2 separate regions of the Homo sapiens genome follow, and region 2 is linked to region 1. The links come from fine-mapping of genetic effects on plasma protein levels. A gene starts in region 1. The other region holds a variant in brackets. All regions are shown on one strand. Distances are between the middles of the regions.

Region 1 (8,323 bases):
GAAATGTTTAAAAAATATTTGCTGAATTAAATAGAAAAAATGAAGAAAAAGAAAAAAGAGGCACCTGGAGATGTTTTGTCCAGGTCTTAGCTGGTGGAAGGGACCTTGGGCTGTGAGCGTGCTTGAGTCTGGTCTGCCCAGCTGGCAGCCCCCACACCACCCTGCAAGTCCACATGGGATGAGGGGCACCCCTAATGTACCCAACTGGACGTGGGGGCCACCTACCAGACACGCAGCCTATGACAGAATCTCCTGCCCCTCAGAACCTCAACGCCAGTTTCTGGGATGCTGTTAATGCCCTCCCAGCCCTTTACACAACAGATACTATACACAGCACGGACAGAAGAAATTGATCCTTTGACGTTTCCATTTCCTAAGAGTTTTACAAAAATGACTTTCGGGCCGGGCACAGTGGCTCACGCCTATAATCCTAACACTTTGGGAGGCCAACGGGGGTGGATCACTTGAGGTCAGGAGTTCAAGACCAGCCTGGCCAATATGGTGAAACCCTGTGTCTATTAAAAATACAAAAATTAGCCGGGCGTGTTGGCACACCCCGGTAATCCCAGCTACTCAGGAGGCTGAGGCAGGAGAATCGCTTGAACCTGGGAGGCTGAGGTTGCAGTGAGCCAAGATCAGGCCATTTCAATCTACACTCGAGCTTAGGCAACAGAGTGAGACTCCATCTAAAAATAAATAAATAAACTAGCCTGGTGTGGTAGTACACACCTGTAGTCCCAGCTACTCAGGAGGCTGAGGTGGGAGGACTGCTTGAGCCCAAGAAGTCGAGGCTGCAGTGAGCGATGATTGCACCACTGTACTCCAGTCTGGGCAACAGAATGGGATCCTGTCTCTAAATAATAATAGAATTACATAACAAAACTTTTTTGGGTGATAAAAAAAATCCTAAAACTGGATAATGGTGATGCTGGAATATCGCTGTGCATTTACTACAAATCATTGCATTGTACACTTAGGAGAATTTTACAGTATGTAAATTTTATCTTAATAAAGTTTAAAAAAAAACCTTCCAATGGCTTACTATTTCACTTTGGCTGAAATCCATACTCATTTCCCTGGATCCCTGCATGTACGATCTGGCCTTGCCTTGGCCCTCCCACTTCAACCCTGCTCACCACCTCCAACCCCTCCCCCACGGCCCTCCTCTCCCACCAGGTGGCTCTTCCTGCTGCACCTCCCAAGCTGTTTCCCACTTCAGGCTCTGGCCCAGATCTGCACACAGCCGCATCTTTTCTTTCCTTCAATCACAGTCTAAAGGGGCTTGGAGAGGCTTCCCTGCCACACCTGCAACATCCTTCTCTCGCAGTCCTGCCCTTTGCTTCTTGCATTCATCACATAACTGTTTCATGTCTGTTTCCCCTTGAAAAGCTAAGCTCCATGAAGGCAGGGATCAGCTGCAACGGAGCACATACGAGGTGCTCAGCCTGTTGAACACACAAATGATGGTAGAACTCAAATGAGGATGCTAAGAGGGGACAAAAGTATTCCAGGCTGAAGAGCAAAAAAGAAAACCCTTGGCTTCTTAGCAGCTTTGGCTAGAACTGTGGATATGGGCTGCTCTGTTCAAATGCAGAATTTCTGTGGCACCCGTTATGTGCTTAGAAAAACTTGGCAAAGGAGTAGCAAACCTCAAAGTAGGGAGAAAACCAAAGTCAGAACTTGCCAAAGACTGCCTGTTCCTGCAACTCCTAACTGAGGCAGAAAAAAAGAGCGCTTCCGGAGGCAGGGAGTAGGCGTCAGGCCTGGGCTCCTCTGCTGGTTATTTTTAGCAGCCCAATGCAAAGCTCAGAAAGATATACTCCCTTCACATCAATATATTGGTCATTTAAGCCTCTAGGAGGAGCAGTCATTTTGTACATGGTTAAAGTGAACTAGGAGCGTCAGAGCTGTTCCCGGGACCCCTTTGAGGTCCCTGAATTGTATTAGTTTCCAAAAGCAAGGCATCAGCATGGCCATGTTCTCTGTCAAAGCTCAAGAGTCTCTCCCACGCCTCTCTCCTAGCTCTTGGTGGCTGCTAGCCTTCTTTGCATTCTTTGACTTATGACTGCATCAGTCCAATCTCTGCCTGTGTTCATATGAGCTTCTTTCCTCTGTGTGTATTTGTGTCTTTTACAAGAACACCAGTCAGATTGGATTCAGGGCCCACCCTACTCCAGAATGACCTCATCTTAACTAATTACATCTGCAAAGACCCAATTTCCAAACAAGTTCACATTCTGAGGTTCTGGTAAGGACATGAGTTTGGGGGGACACTCTCTAACTGAGTTCACTAACCCTCACCGTGGACTGGCTCAAAGGAGCAGTGGCTCAAAGAGGGGCCTGAGATCAAGCACCAGAAGTGCTGACTGTGGATGAAAAGGGGCTGGCCTGGCCCCTATCTGTGTCCCCCCATACCTGTGGTAGTGAGGGAGAAGGAAAAGAAAAATCCGTTGGGGAAAATTCTGACCTCAGAAGTGGCCTGCCTGAAAAGTCATAGAAACTGGCAAAAATAAAGCAACCTGGGAAAAAACTCAGGCTGGACCTGCACGGAGATAAGCAGACAGGGTCCAGCGCAGAAGCCCTTTGTTCTTTGCATAATTAGCAGGCTCCCGGGAAAAAGTTTCCTCTCCTTTTCAGGCATATACACAGTGGGCTCCATGGAAACCGGCACAGGGAGGAGGGGGCCTTATCTAAAACAAACCCACAGTTACACAAACAAGAGAAGCAGCGATTTGCACTTGCCTAGAGACATACCCACAGCTGCATAACATAAGGGGAGCTGCACAGGCAGTTTTACTGGTAAGAAGTTACTCAGTTACCAGGAGGAGAGCAGTGTCCTATAAAAGTTTTTTGCGGCCAGGCACAGTGGCTCACGCCTGTAATCCCAGCACTTTGGGAGGCGGAAGGAGGCGGATCACCTGAGGTCAGGAGTTTGAAACCAGCCTGGCCAACATGGTAAAATTTCGTCTCTACCCAAAATACAAAAATTAGCAGGGCGCAGTGACGTGTGCCTGTAATCCCAGCTACTCGGGAGGCTGAGGCAGGAGAATCATTTGAACCCAGGAGGCAGAGGTTGTTGAGGTTGCAGTGAGCCAAGATCGCACCATTGCACTCCAGCCTGGGTGACAAGAGCAAAACTCTGTCTTAAAAAAAAAAAAAAAAAAAGCTTTTTGCATTCAGCTGTAACCCGACAATCCACTCGGACTCCCGTCTCCACTTTGGAGAGCTTTCTTCTTTCCCTTATTAAACGTTCGCTCCAACCCCACCCTTGTGTCCACGCTCCTTAGTTTTCTTGGAGGTAGGACAAAGAACCCCGGGACTAGTTCAGACAAGGAGAAACTGCTATATTAAGGTGCACTGGCAAGACCGCAACAGTATCAAGCCAATTAGACTTGCCGTGGCTCCTGGAATGGCCCACGCACTGCACTGGCACCAAGACACCACCCAACCCTGGACACTGCACTGGGACAGGAGGCCTGAAGAGAAGAATCCTCTCAAAGGAAGCTTGAAGTACATGCTACAAAATAAACTGGCTTCTATACTCAGGGCCAGCTTCATGGGCTCACTCAGAAGGTCCCTGGCTTGCTGCAACCATTTGCTCTGACCATCTTGAAATTCTTAATAGTTTTCTGGGTTTTTTAGTAAGTGTCCCCACGTTTTCATTTTGCATTGAGTCACACAAATCATGTAGCTGGGCTGTCTTCAAAAATGTCAAGGTAGTAAAAGACAAAAGGCTGAGGAGCCTTCCAGATGAAGAGATCAAAGAGACATGACAACTAAAAGCAACTCCTGGGTTACAGGGTCAGGGGCGGACAAAAAGGAAAAGAAAAAAAAAGACATTAGAGGGACAATTGAAGGTTAGCTGTGGATGACATCACAGAAATGTCAATGGGAGTTGTCCTAATGATATTTGCCCTGTGGTTAAGAAAATGCCCTTGTTCTTAGGAGATTCATGGCGAGGTATGGGGTAAAGGATCATGACATCTGCAATTTGGTTGCCATTGGTTCAGGAAAAAAAAAAAACAAAGTACAAATGATTGAGTAAATCAGGCAAGCCTAAACCACTGCTAAACATGAATAACAGTTCTACGAGAGTTCTTTATGCTCTCCTTGCAACTTCCTGTAGGTTTGAGATTACCTGGAGATAAAAAGTTAACATCACCAGCACCGCCCGCCAGCCCGCCAGCCGAAAAGAGCGCAGGTAATTCAGTCCGAGCTGAAAGCGGCCACCCTGGGACTTGAGTCACGTGAGGCGAGCCCACATGACCCGAGGCCCCGGTCCAATATGGCGACCTCCACGGGTCGCTGGCTTCTCCTCCGGCTTGCACTATTCGGCTTCCTCTGGGAAGCGTCCGGCGGCCTCGACTCGGGGTGAGTGCAGCTCCCTGGGCCAGCCTGGTTCGGGGGGTCCCCCCTGTCCTCCGAGCTCACGAGGACAGCCCCCTGAGCTCACGGCCGCCCGTCCCCGCAGGGCCTCCCGCGACGACGACTTGCTACTGCCCTATCCACGCGCGCGCGCGCGCCTCCCCCGGGACTGCACACGGGTGCGCGCCGGCAACCGCGAGCACGAGAGTTGGCCTCCGCCTCCCGCGACTCCCGGCGCCGGCGGTCTGGCCGTGCGCACCTTCGTGTCGCACTTCAGGGACCGCGCGGTGGCCGGCCACCTGACGCGGGCCGTTGAGCCCCTGCGCACCTTCTCGGTGCTGGAGCCCGGTGGACCCGGCGGCTGCGCGGCGAGACGACGCGCCACCGTGGAGGAGACGGCGCGGGCGGCCGACTGCCGTGTCGCCCAGAACGGCGGCTTCTTCCGCATGAACTCGGGCGAGTGCCTGGGGAACGTGGTGAGCGACGAGCGGCGGGTGAGCAGCTCCGGGGGGCTGCAGAACGCGCAGTTCGGGATCCGCCGCGACGGGACCCTGGTCACCGGGTGAGGAGGCAGGGAGCCCCGTGCTGTCGAGGGCAGAGGGCCTGAGATTTGGGTTGTAGCCGTGCCTCCGTGTTCAAGTCACTTAACCAAGCTGAGCCCCTGTTTCCTCCTCTGCAGAATGGGGATAGGAATCGCTTCCTTGCAGAGTTTATTCATCATCCAGTATCATTGAGCACTTGCTTGTATCAGGCAATGTGCCGCGCCCCGGTGAGATAGCCGTGAACAACACAGTCTTTGCCTTAACAGCCCTCCCCCATTACTAGAAAAATCAACAAAAGCCGGGTAAATAGCTAACATACATTCTGATTGCTGTGTGTGCAGCAAAGCAACCAACGGGGTGAACCCGTTGTAAATAGTGTTGATTTTAGGGAGGGTGATCTGGAACACGCCTCTCCGAGGTGACCTTTGAGTGGGAACTTGAAGATGAATCACTAAGTGAGCCAAGGTCAGAACTGGAGGAAGAGCGTTTCAGTCCAAAGGAACCCCACGCACAAAGGCTCAGAGGCTCAGGGGGGCTTGTGTGTATGAGGGACTGAAAAAGGAGTGGGGTGTCAGAAACATCAACTCATCAAGACTGATGATTTTTTTTTTTTTGAGACAGAGTCTTGCTCTGTTGCCCAGGATGGAGGGCAGTGGCATGATACCGGCTCACTGCAACCTCTGCCTCCCGGGTTCAAGCGATTCTCCTGCCTCAGCCTCTGGAGTAGCTGGGACTACGGACGTGTGCCACCACGCCCGGCTGATTTTTGTATTTTTAGTAGAGACGGGATGGGGTGGGGAACGGGGGAGTGGGTTCACCATATTGGCCTGGCCGGTCTCGAACTCCTGACCTCAAGTGATCCACCCACCTCAGCCTCCCAAAGTGCTGGGATGACAGGTGTGAGCCACCACGCCCTGGCAAGATTGATGATTTGAATTATTTAAAATTATCTTAAAAATTATTTGAGTCTCAAAAAAAAAGTATTTGTTGATGATAAAGCTTGTTCTGATCCTGAGTGGGACCAGGTGGGAGAGAGCAGTGGAGAAACAAGGAAGCCAATGAAGGGCCGTAACAGGGATCAAGTGGTAGTTGGGCTGGGTATGGCCTGGGGATTGAGGGCCATAGATGGATTTGAGCTCTGTTGGGGGATGGTCATTTCTGTTAAATGAAACAGACTGTTTGCAAAGGCTTGTGGGGATTGTATTGTCAGAACCCTGTCCAGCTTCAGCTCTGACAACAGGGAGATTCCTAGGGCTGTTAAGTTGTCCCAGCTACACTCAGGCCCCAGGAGGTTCCTGGGGCATGAGGGGGAATCTAGCAGCCAGGTTGGGATGGCTAGGGAGAAAGAGCCTGACTATCTGCAGTTGCCCCTGCTGGTGAGTGAGCTTCCCACCTTCCCCGGATCCAGGTACCTGTCTGAGGAGGAGGTGCTGGACACTGAGAACCCATTTGTGCAGCTGCTGAGTGGGGTCGTGTGGCTGATTCGTAATGGAAGCATCTACATCAACGAGAGCCAAGCCACAGAGTGTGACGAGACACAGGAGACAGGTTGGATGGGGAGGCTGTTGGCAACAACCCTCTCGAGAACCAGGACCAGTGGGCTGGGCGGAGCTGTTCTTAAGTCTTTCAACAAGTATTGAGCAGCTACTTTGTGCCCAGCACTATTCTGGGTACTGGGGATTCATGGGGAGGAAGATAGGCTTATATTGAATATATAGGACAAAAAATAGTTATAGAATATGCTGAAAAGAATTGATAAGTGCTCAGAAACAAAAATAAAGTTAGGGGAAAGGGGAGAGATGGGGACCGGAGCTGTGGGTACAGGAAGAGAAAAGTGAAGAGAAAAAAATCTTCATGGACCTGCAACATCGGCGTGGCCCAGGAGCTTGTTTCAAAGCCCCACACCCTCAGACCTGCAGAATCAGAGGCAAGGCCCAAGAGTCTATGTTTTAACGGGCCTCCATGGTGACTCTGACCGACACTCAAGGTTGAGAACCACTGGGATGCAGAATACTGGGATGGGGACAGGATACCATGACCATTTTAGAGTGGGCAGTAAGCTAGGTGTGGTGGCTAACACCTATAATCCCAGCACTTTGGGAGGCCGAGGCGGGAGGATCGGTTGAGCCCAGGAGTTCAAGACCTGCCTGGGCAACATAGTGAGACCTATCTCTACAAAAAAAAAAAATACAAAAATTAGCCAGGCATGGTGGTGTGTGCCTGTAGTCCCAGCTACTTGGGAGGCTGAAGCATGAGAATTGCTTGAACCTGGGAGGTGGAGGTTGCAGTGAGCTGAGATCATGCCACTGCACTCCAGCCCGGGCAACACAGCGAGACTCTTTGTCTCAAAAAAAAAAAAAGAGTGGGCGGTCAAGGAAGGCCTCACTAAGGAGGTGATCTGACAAAGGAGCAAGCTAGAGAAAAGCACAGTTCCCAGCCAGAGGGAACAGGAAGTGCAAAGTGGCTGCAGGGTGGTGAGGGGACACCCAGGAGCTGAGGCAGGAGGAGGAAGAGGCTGGGGAGGGCATGCTGGCTCTTTGGATTTTGTTCTAAGAACAGGGGAAACCATTAGAGGGTCTTCACCTGGAGGCTGGCATAGCTTGGTTTACCTGTAAGAAGAGACCCCCCGGCTGCCCTGGGGAGACTGGGATGTGCAGAGGGGAGGCAGGGAGACGAGCAAGGAGGCTGCTGTGCTTCCCAGGGAGGTACCAGGTAGCTCAGACCAGTGGGAAGTGGAGTTAGGCAAGAAGCAGGAGGCCTCCCAAGGGGCGGTGATCAGCCAGGCTGCTTTTCCTTCAGGTTCCTTTAGCAAATTTGTGAATGTGATATCAGCCAGGACGGCCATTGGCCACGACCGGAAAGGGCAGCTGGTGCTCTTTCATGCAGACGGCCAAACGGAGCAGCGTGGGTGAGTCCTGGGAGCTGAGGCCCCCCGGCCGGGGCTCAGTCCTGCTAGGAGGAACGTTGACCCAATGACAGCCACCCTCTGACTCTACCTGCTTTCTGGGATGTTGACACCTATCTGTCCCCCCTCCCAGGGCCCCCTCACCTTCCCACAGGATGAGGGTTCTGAGATCTTTGCCGATTCCAAGAACTCATCATCTTCAGCTTTAGGCCTCACCTTTCCTGAACCCTAGATAGGATACAAGGAAATGGTCACAAAGTGAGCAGGGAGAAGATCTTGGTTCCAATCCCAGCTTAGCCATCGATGACTTGTCTACCCACCTATGCCGTAGACAAGTCCCTCGGCCTCCCTGAGCCTCATTTCTAGCCCCTGTAAAGAGAGTGTTTTGGTTTGCTCTGGTTGCATAACCAGCACAAATTTAGCAACACTCAGCAGGGAATGTTCTTTTGTTTGTTTGTTTCTTTGAGACAGGGTCTTACTCCGTCGCCCAGGCCAGAGTGCAGTGGTGCAA
Region 2 (8,323 bases), 14 kb after region 1:
GGAGGTTGCAGTGAACTGAGATCGCACCGCTGCACTCCAGCCTGGGCAACAGAGCAAGACTCCATCTCAAAAAGTCCAGAGATTGACAAAAATTCCAGCTTGCTGGTTTCTCTTTAAAGATCTGGCAGCCCTGGTGGGCGCCTGCACAAGTCACCAGGCCAGCTCAGATTCAGGGAGAAGGGAAACGGGCTCTGCCTCTTAAAAAGGAGCTGCAAAGTCAGGCGCCTTAGAGTCATTCAGGTGTATTCCTAAGAGCAGTTCCCAAGCCTGGCTGCAGATCCTGGAATCTACAGGGATCACTCTCAGTCTGACGCCACGGCCACGATGATGGCCATGATGACCATCCTGAAATGACCCTTGGCCTGAGAACCATGACCTCTGAGGGGACATCTCTGTTGTGCTGGCGGCTAAGTTGGAAAAGTGACAGTCCTGTGCACTGGAATCCAGGCCCAGAGGCAGCAGTACCTGAAGAGGGCCTGTCACAGCAAAGTTAGAGGGGTCCCAGGTCAGGTGACTCAAACATGCCAAGCGGTGTGAGTCCTGTGGCCCCTGGAATTTTTTTTTTTTTTTTTTTTGAGACAGTCTCATTTTGTTCCCCAGGCTGGAGTGCAATGGTGCAACCTCGGCTCACTGCAACCTCTGCCTCCCGGGTTCAAGCGTTTCTCATGCCTCAACCTCCCAAGTAGCTGGGATTTCAGGCATGCACCACCATGCCTGGCTAATTTTTGTATTTTTAGTAGAGGCGGGGTTTCACTATGTTGGCCAGGCTGGTCTCGAACCCTTGGCCTAAAGTGATCCACCCGCCTGGGCCTCCCAAAGTGCTGGGATTACAGGTATGAGCTGCCGCACCCAGCCTGTAATTTCTTTTTAATTTGTCATTGTGTTATTGATTTTCTTTGCCTGCCCGACATCCAGTCTCTCTTCTAGCAACAGCCCTGTCTTAGGCTAGGATTCCCCAGATGCAGAAACTAAGACAAGGAGGTGAGAGCAAGTACTTTATTGGGGAGGCGGCCCCAGGAAGCACTGGTAGAGGACAGGGAGGGAAGGCAGCCTGTGCAGAGTGCAGGAGTGAGCAAGTCTATACTGTAGGCAACAGGGGCTCAATCCTGCTGGGGGCCTCTGGGACAGTTGGTAGAACAGGTCTTGGTTGCACCACACAAGGGCGAGGAAGCTGGGGTATTTATCAGCCAACACCCATTCATCATTGGTTGAGGGCCGCTCCTGGGGGTTGACTCCCTGGCAGTGCCAGTCTGCCCTACCCAGAGACCGAATGTGCCCTGGCAACCACAGGGAGCTGTGGGAAAGTTGCAACATCTTGTGACCTGAAGCCTTCCATGGTAATGAGAGTGCCCGGGGAGGTGGCCACTTCTGCCTCCTGCTCCACGTCCTATCTAAGGTCTGCCGTCCAAAATCTAAATGCCTGAGCCCCAAAATGTGCCTCTCCTGTAACAGTACAAGTGTCACACGTTTTGGGTTGCCGGAGACCCCAAAACCCAGGAGCCCTGGCTGTGAGCCTCTAGCGTGTTGCTATCAGGGTAGTACCTCTCCCCCATTCTCCATCCAGGTGGTTTGGGTGGCACTGTCTTCTCACCCCAAGTTGCAGGTGGGCCTGAGAGATTGGTCCAGAGTTAGGCACCTGCCCCGGGTCAGCCCGTCAGAGCCCATCGTGGAACTTCTGCTGCAGCTGGAAGAAGAAACTCTCTCTGCTGGGACTGTCTAACTTCCAAGGTTAGACACAAGGAGGGCCACAAGGTGGGCCAAGGTGGGCCACAAGGAGGAGGAACGGAAACCAACTCTTCTCCAGTGTGGAGAAGACCTGATCAGAACCAAGAGATGGAGCGGGTGAGCCAGTGTGGAAAACGACTAGACTGAGGGTGTTGGGGTGGGGGTGGGGGGACATGATTTGAATGCCTGGATCCAGCTATACCTGAAGCCAGCCAGATCATTCTTGGACTTCCGAATTACATGAACCCATAAATTCCCATTTTTTGCTTGAGGCAATTTGTATTGGGTTTTGGGGTCTCCGGCAACCCAAACGTGTGACACTTGTATTGTTACAGGAGAGGCACATTTTGGGACTCAGGCATTTAGATTTTGGACGGCAGACCTTAGATAGGACATGGAGCAGGAGGCAGAAGTGTCTGAGATTCCAGTACCAACCTATGGTGCTGGTGGGGACACAAATATACAAGAGCTAAAGTCATCAAACTGCAGGCAAGCCGGCTGGGGATTCATGTGCTCCGATCCCAGCAGCATAAGGGTCCCCTCCCCCACCCACAGTAGTGACTCAAGACCCCCAGGCACAGGCACGGTGGTCTTGGACTGCACACTGAAGTCTCTGCAGCTCAACTGGGAACCCTGAGAGTTCCACATGCTGGGCCATCGCCATGGTGACACGTCTCAGCTTCTGGGGTGCTCTGCACAGAACTTTAGTATTCGGAAAGACCCCAGAAAGGTTCCCATCCTGGCGTCAATGGGTGGGCTTTCAAGGACTCTTTGGGGCCCCAAAACAAATGAAATTCGTGTGTGTGTCCTGAGTTCTCATGGGATTCTCCAAGCAGTCTGTGTCCGGAAAAAAAAAAAAATCCTGGCTTAGAGGTTTCAAATTGTGCTTTTTGCCAGCTTGGGCAACATGGCCCCGCCGCTACAAAAAAATACAAGAATTAGGCATGGTGGCGCACACCTGTGGTTCCAGCTACTTGGGGCTGAGGTGGGAGGGTCGCTTGAGCCCGGCAGGTTGAGGCTACAGTGAACCATGATCATGCCACCGCACTCCAGCCTGGGTGACAGAGTGAGACCCTGTCTCAAAAAAAAATGTGACTTTTGGGGATCCGCATTCCTCCAAAATGCCTTGTTGGGGGCTGGGCACTAAGGGAGGCAGGGAAGTGAGAGGGAGAAGTTGGTAGCCACAGCCTCTGACATCCCTGGAGGCCCTGGGCTCCCTTCCTCCCAGGCCCTACCCCAGCTCCCACTGCAGCTGCTTGCGTCCAACCTGGCTCCGCAGAGGTCCCAGGGGTCTGTGCCCCAAGAACTGATCCCAGAGGCAGCCTCTGGGCCACAGGGAGCCCTGGGCATGTTTTGCTCGCTCTGGGTCCAGGCCCCAGGAGGCCTCCAAGGAAAGCGCTGTGGCTGAGACAGGCATCAGCAGGGCCCCACAGCTCAGGCCTGATCCCAGCTCCCGCCCACCCTCCGGAGCTCCATCTTCCCCCACAGGGCTGTTCTTTCTCGATACCCGCCGCACCCACGAGTCAGCTGGCTGTTCCTTTGAAACCCGCCACCCACAGTTCCAGAGAAATCCACGGAAGAGTCACCGCCCATGAACACACGCAAGTGCAAGCCGCCTCCTCTCCCCTGACGAGCTGTGCTGGGCAGGGCTGGGGAGCAGAAGCTGGGTGGACAGATGGCCCTCGTGCCATCACACAAAACACCACACCTGCTCTGCTCTCACAAATGACAACCCCAGCCACCAGCTCCAAAACGACGAAGGCTTTTCAGAGTCCCAGGATCTGTGTGGCAGCCAGCTCCACTCTCCGTGCCCCAAGAGAGCTCACGGGAAGGACAGGTGGCACCCTGGACAGGGTTCATCACAACCTTCTGACGTCAGGACTGTGGCTGTTTTGGGATGCAGCTCTCCAGGACACCAGGTCTGGCACTTTGGTAAAACCCCAGGGGGAGGGCAGGGCAGCCCAGGAGAGATGGGCACCAGGGATTTTCATATCTGTTTAATGCAGATATAACTGTGTATCTGGTTAGCTATTGTATGCATACATAATAAGTTGAGTAGCATGCCCCAAAATTCATGTCCATCCGGAACCTTAAAATGTGACCTCGCTTGGAAGTAAGATCTTTGCAGGTGGAATTAGTTAAGGATCTCAAGACGTTATACTGGACTTAGGATGGGTCCTAAATCCAATGACTGGCATCCCTACAAGAAGAGGAGACACAGAGAGAGAGGAAGGCCATATGATGATGGAGGCAGAGACTGGAGTGATGCAACCACAAGCCACGAGGTGCCACTAGACACTGGAAGAGGCAAGGAAGGGTCCTCCCCTACAGCCTTCAGAAGGAGCAGGGCCCTACCTCCATGGTGATTCCGGACTTCCAGCCTCCAGAACATTCCTGTTGTTGTTGTTGCTGTTGTTGTTGTTTTGAGACGGAGTCTCACTCTGTCACCCAGGCTGGAGTGCAGTGACATAATCTTGGCTCACTGCAAGCTCCGCCTCCCGGGTTCACGGCATTCTCCTGCCTCAGCCTCCCGAGTAGCTAGGACTACAGGCGCCCGCCACCATGCCCGGCTAATTTTTTGTATTTTTTAGTAGAGACGGGGTTTCACCATGTTAGCCAGATGGTCTCAATCTCCTGACCTTGTGATCCACCCGCCTCGGCCTCCCAAAGTGCTGGGATTACAGGCGTGAGCCACTGCGCCTGGCCTATTTCTGCTTTATATATAAAAATTGTGATCCTCCCTCACACGGCCCAATAACCAATCTTGAGAACCTTAACTAATTACACCTGCAAAAACCTTATTTCCAAATGAGGTCACATTCTAAGGTTCTAGGTGGACATGAATTTGGGGACATGCTATCCAATCCATTACATATGTATACAATATATATGATACACAATTATACCTGCATTAAACAGATATGCAGCCCCTTGGGGGTGATATCACTCCGGTTGCAAATGCTCTAAAGCAAGGGTGTCCAATCTTTTGGCTTCCCTGGACCACATTGGAACAAGAAGAATTGTCTTGGGCCACACATAAAATACACTAATGATAGCTGATGAGCTGAAAAA[A/G]CAAAGAAAACACACACACAAAAAACCTCAGTATTTTAAGAAAGTTTACGAACTCGTGTTGGAGCACATTCAAAGCAGTCCGGGGCCGCGTGCAGCCTGCAGGCCACAGGCTGAACAAGCTAGCTCTAAAGTCTTTTAAACAACAGCTGGAAAGTTCTTGAACGAGCCCACGGGAAACCTCCAGGGTTTTAGGAAGCTGACGATGCAAGTTTATCCAAATGGAAAACATTTAATGCTGCTGGTTGGAGCAAGTGATCAGGCAAACAAAAAAACCCATCGTGTTTCACTGGCTCAAAGAGACTTTGTTGAAAACAATTATACTATTCTCATTGGACAATAAATTTTACAGCAGGGAGGGGGAATTCCAGAGAGTGCAGGGTAGAAAAAAAGAGTCTCAAACTCTCCATACTTCAACCTCTGGGAAAAAACATTTTCTAACTGCCAAGGGAAATACCACTCAGAATACACTCCCTCAGATGGGTGGACTTACCCAGAAAACACAAGCAGCTTCTTTCTTCTTTTTTTGAGACAGGGTCTTGCTTTGTCACCCAGGATGAAGTACAGGGGTGAGATCATGGCTCACTCCAGCCTTGACCTCCAAGCAATCCTTCTGCCTCAGCCTCCCGAGCAGCTGAGACTATAGGCACGCACCACCACGCCTGGCTCATTTTTTAATTTTTTGTAGAGACAGGGTCTCACTATGTTGCCCAGGCTGGTCTTGAACTCCTGCACTCAAGCGATCAGCCGGCCTCAGCCTCCCAAAGTGTTGGGATTATAGGCATGAGCCACCACGCCCCGCCCACACAAGCAGTTTCTAAAAGAGAAAGACTGCACACCCAACTCAGAGGGCAATAATTCTTGACACCTACTTTTCTCTGGGTGCAATAACGAAAAACAGGGATAGGCGACCTCAGGAAGAAAACGAGTCTTTGGATGCGAAGCATTAAGTAATCAGAATGACCACTGACATTAATGGAGCGCTTTCTGTGTTCTGGGAGCTGTGCTGAAAGCTTTACAGCTACTCCCTCATTTCGTCCCACTACAACCTATTGAGGTAGGCACTGCTATCCTCACTTTACAGATGAGGAAACTGAGGCACAGAGAGGTTAAGTCACCTGGTCAAGGTTACACAGCTAGTGAAAGGAAGGCTGGGGTTTGAGTCCTGGCCTAAATTCAAGGCCCAGGTGCCCAAACACCAACAGTAATGCTGCTTGTGGGTTGCTTCTGTCCTGGTCACAATGGATTAATGAACTAATGATGCAAGAAGCCCAAGCCAAGGCACTTCCAGCCTTTGTGGCTCAGGGGAAATTCAAAAGCCAAAAGCTTGGCAATCCCTTCCTTGGATTATTTTTAATTCCAGTCCTCCCGAAGGCAAGAAGAATGACCTTGATAATGCTTCCACGTGGGTCCCCGAGACCTCCACATGGGAGGAGAGCCGGCCGTAGCAGATGCCACCATGGATACCTGCTGGTTCTGTGGTCCAGCTTCTCTTGTCCATTGGGGGAATGGCCCTCCCCAATCCTGCTGCGGCTTCTGCAGGGAATGTCAATCACGGGACCCTAGTTCCTTGCCAGTGTGGCCCACAGGAATAAGCATGTGACTCGAGCTGGGCCAATCAGAGCCTTCCATGAGATTTGAGATGGAAAAGCATCTCTTAGAGTGTGAATCCTGAAATTATAGGCTTGGGGCTGCTGGCAGCCATCTTTCCCGCCAGGTGGAAGAAAGAATGAGGTCAGCATGCAAAGAGATGCAGAGTCAAGAGGCCTGGGTGCAGTTGAGAGGCCTGAGGACATTAAGCTCCTGGATCCAGCCATATCTGAAGCAGCACCCACCTTCAGCCATCCCTAGTACAGGACCCAGGGAATTTGCTTTGTTGCTTAAGCCAGTTTGGGCTGGTTTTCCCTAGGGAGAGAGCACTCTCAAGAGCAGAACTGAAAGGGCCTGAGGTTCCTCACCCCCACTGTTAAGGGTGGACAGCTGATAGCAGACTCCCCTCCCCCCACCCGCCTCTGGAACAGGCAGTTCCAGCTTCCTTCCGTAAAAGGCTTCTGTGTCCTTCTCTGGGGCTAGACAATAAATGTATAAAGACTGCCAGGGCAGCTTATCCCAGCATACTTGTAGGATAACACCTAGTTTTTAAGAGAAAAGCTAGAAATTCACTTAAAGATAGTTGAAAATATTGCAAGTTGCTCTCAGCAATAAATGCCTGGTGATATGGGAGCAATTAGTTTTGAGAACGTCTCCTTCCAATCAGTCGGTCTCTTATGCACACATGTGCACACACACCTTGACGCAGAGTGCAAAGCAATCTATTTTGTTCAGATACCTGAGAAGCGGACAGAGAGCCAACAGGAAGGTGGGCAAGGCTCTCTCCCAGCAGGAAGAAGGATGTATCTGAAAAGATGACACTTTCTCTCTTCCTTGGGTTTGGGGTTGAGGCTGGCGTAGATATAAGTTTCCTGGCCCTGCATTGCTGAGCCTGCATAAAGATGATTCTTGTGGCCACAAAACCACCCCTTGGCTCAGTTACTGCAGCAGAGATGAGCCCCAACTCTAAGCAAGGCCAGGAGACAAGGGTACCAGCCACTGCTGACAGAGCCATGTCAGTGAGACTCCTGCCACGCAGGTCATGAGGATGTGTAATGTGGGCTGGGCGCAAGTCAATGGGGTAGGGACTGGCGTGGCCACATCCAGGGGTGCAGAGGTGTTGTCTTCATGCAACAATAGTGACCCCATTCTGCTGGTGCTCCCAAATGCCTAAGGGAAGCCAGAAATCCTGATTTCGATGCGAAATGCCTCAATTTTTAAACCATTCTAAAGGCAAAAAAGCAACACTAAAAGCAGGCCAGATCAGGCTTCAAGTTGGTGACCCCTGACTGGCTGCCTTTTGGGGAGTCCAGGAAAGGAAAGGAGAAATGTCCTCAGGCCCCAAGGAGACCCAAGACGCTCCTGTGTAGTAACTAGGGGAACTCATGTCAATATTGAACCTAGTTCCAGAGTCATATCTGCCCCAGGGCAAACACAGCAGCCTCCACTCGCGGGGGGAATCGAGACTCCATGTTGAGACCCTGGATCTAGCCTTACCTGAAGCAAGCCCTCCTGGACTGGCCAGTTCTATGCACCCATGAATGATCATGCTTTTGTGTTGAAGCACCTGGGCATGGGTCTCTGTGGCTTACAACCAAAAACAGTCATAATTAAACAGTTCCCTAGGAGAGAAAGGCATCTCCAGTGGGGTATACAGACAGCCTCAGTCACCCCATCACTGCCTGGAACTTAGCAGAAACCCAGGGCTCTCCCACCCTCTCCAATCAGGGATGGTCAGGCTTAGGCCATGCTGGCCAAGTGCAGGGAACATGGATTTTCACTTCAGGATGTGCTGTTCCCCACAAAGAGCAGCGCCTGTAACTCACTTAACTGCTCACCAAGCACATCTTGATACTGCATAACAGAACGTTATGCAATCAGATGCCAAGGTAAACACCCTTCATTTCTGCCTCCCCAGCATCCTTCCTCCTTCTTCTTA

Which allele goes with the higher level. Positions count from the first base shown, and alleles are read on the strand shown. Strength reflects both the effect of a copy and how common the allele is.
As copies of A replace G in region 2, the plasma level of the protein whose gene starts at base 4,265 in region 1 goes up (weak association).

Evidence for each region. PIP is the posterior inclusion probability: the model's chance that the variant is causal. Protein levels are from antibody-based Olink assays in UK Biobank. Linkage for the fine-mapping came from a reference panel and not from the study's own genotypes, which makes the PIPs less certain.
Region 2: its variant is fine-mapped to the plasma level of the NAGPA protein (UK Biobank, PIP above 0.99).

What each region holds. Positions count from the first base shown.
Region 1 is chr16:5,029,877-5,038,199 of GRCh38, reverse strand. It overlaps NAGPA (N-acetylglucosamine-1-phosphodiester alpha-N-acetylglucosaminidase), which reads left to right and starts at 4,265. Exons shown (of 10, transcript NM_016256.4): 1 at 4,265-4,371; 2 at 4,472-4,927; 3 at 6,316-6,455; 4 at 7,707-7,815. The coding sequence starts at 4,286. NAGPA-AS1 (NAGPA antisense RNA 1) reads right to left here and starts at 4,498. Exons shown (of 2, transcript NR_038913.1): 1 at 4,139-4,498. RefSeq lists enhancers at 4,154-4,333, 4,527-5,028.
Region 2 is chr16:5,015,659-5,023,981 of GRCh38, reverse strand. SEC14L5 (SEC14 like lipid binding 5) reads right to left here. Exons shown (of 16, transcript NM_014692.2): 16 at 4,825-8,323. Among named protein-coding and RNA genes, the nearest start is that of NAGPA-AS1, 14 kb to the left of the region's middle. The variant A/G (reference allele first, on the strand shown) is at 4,798.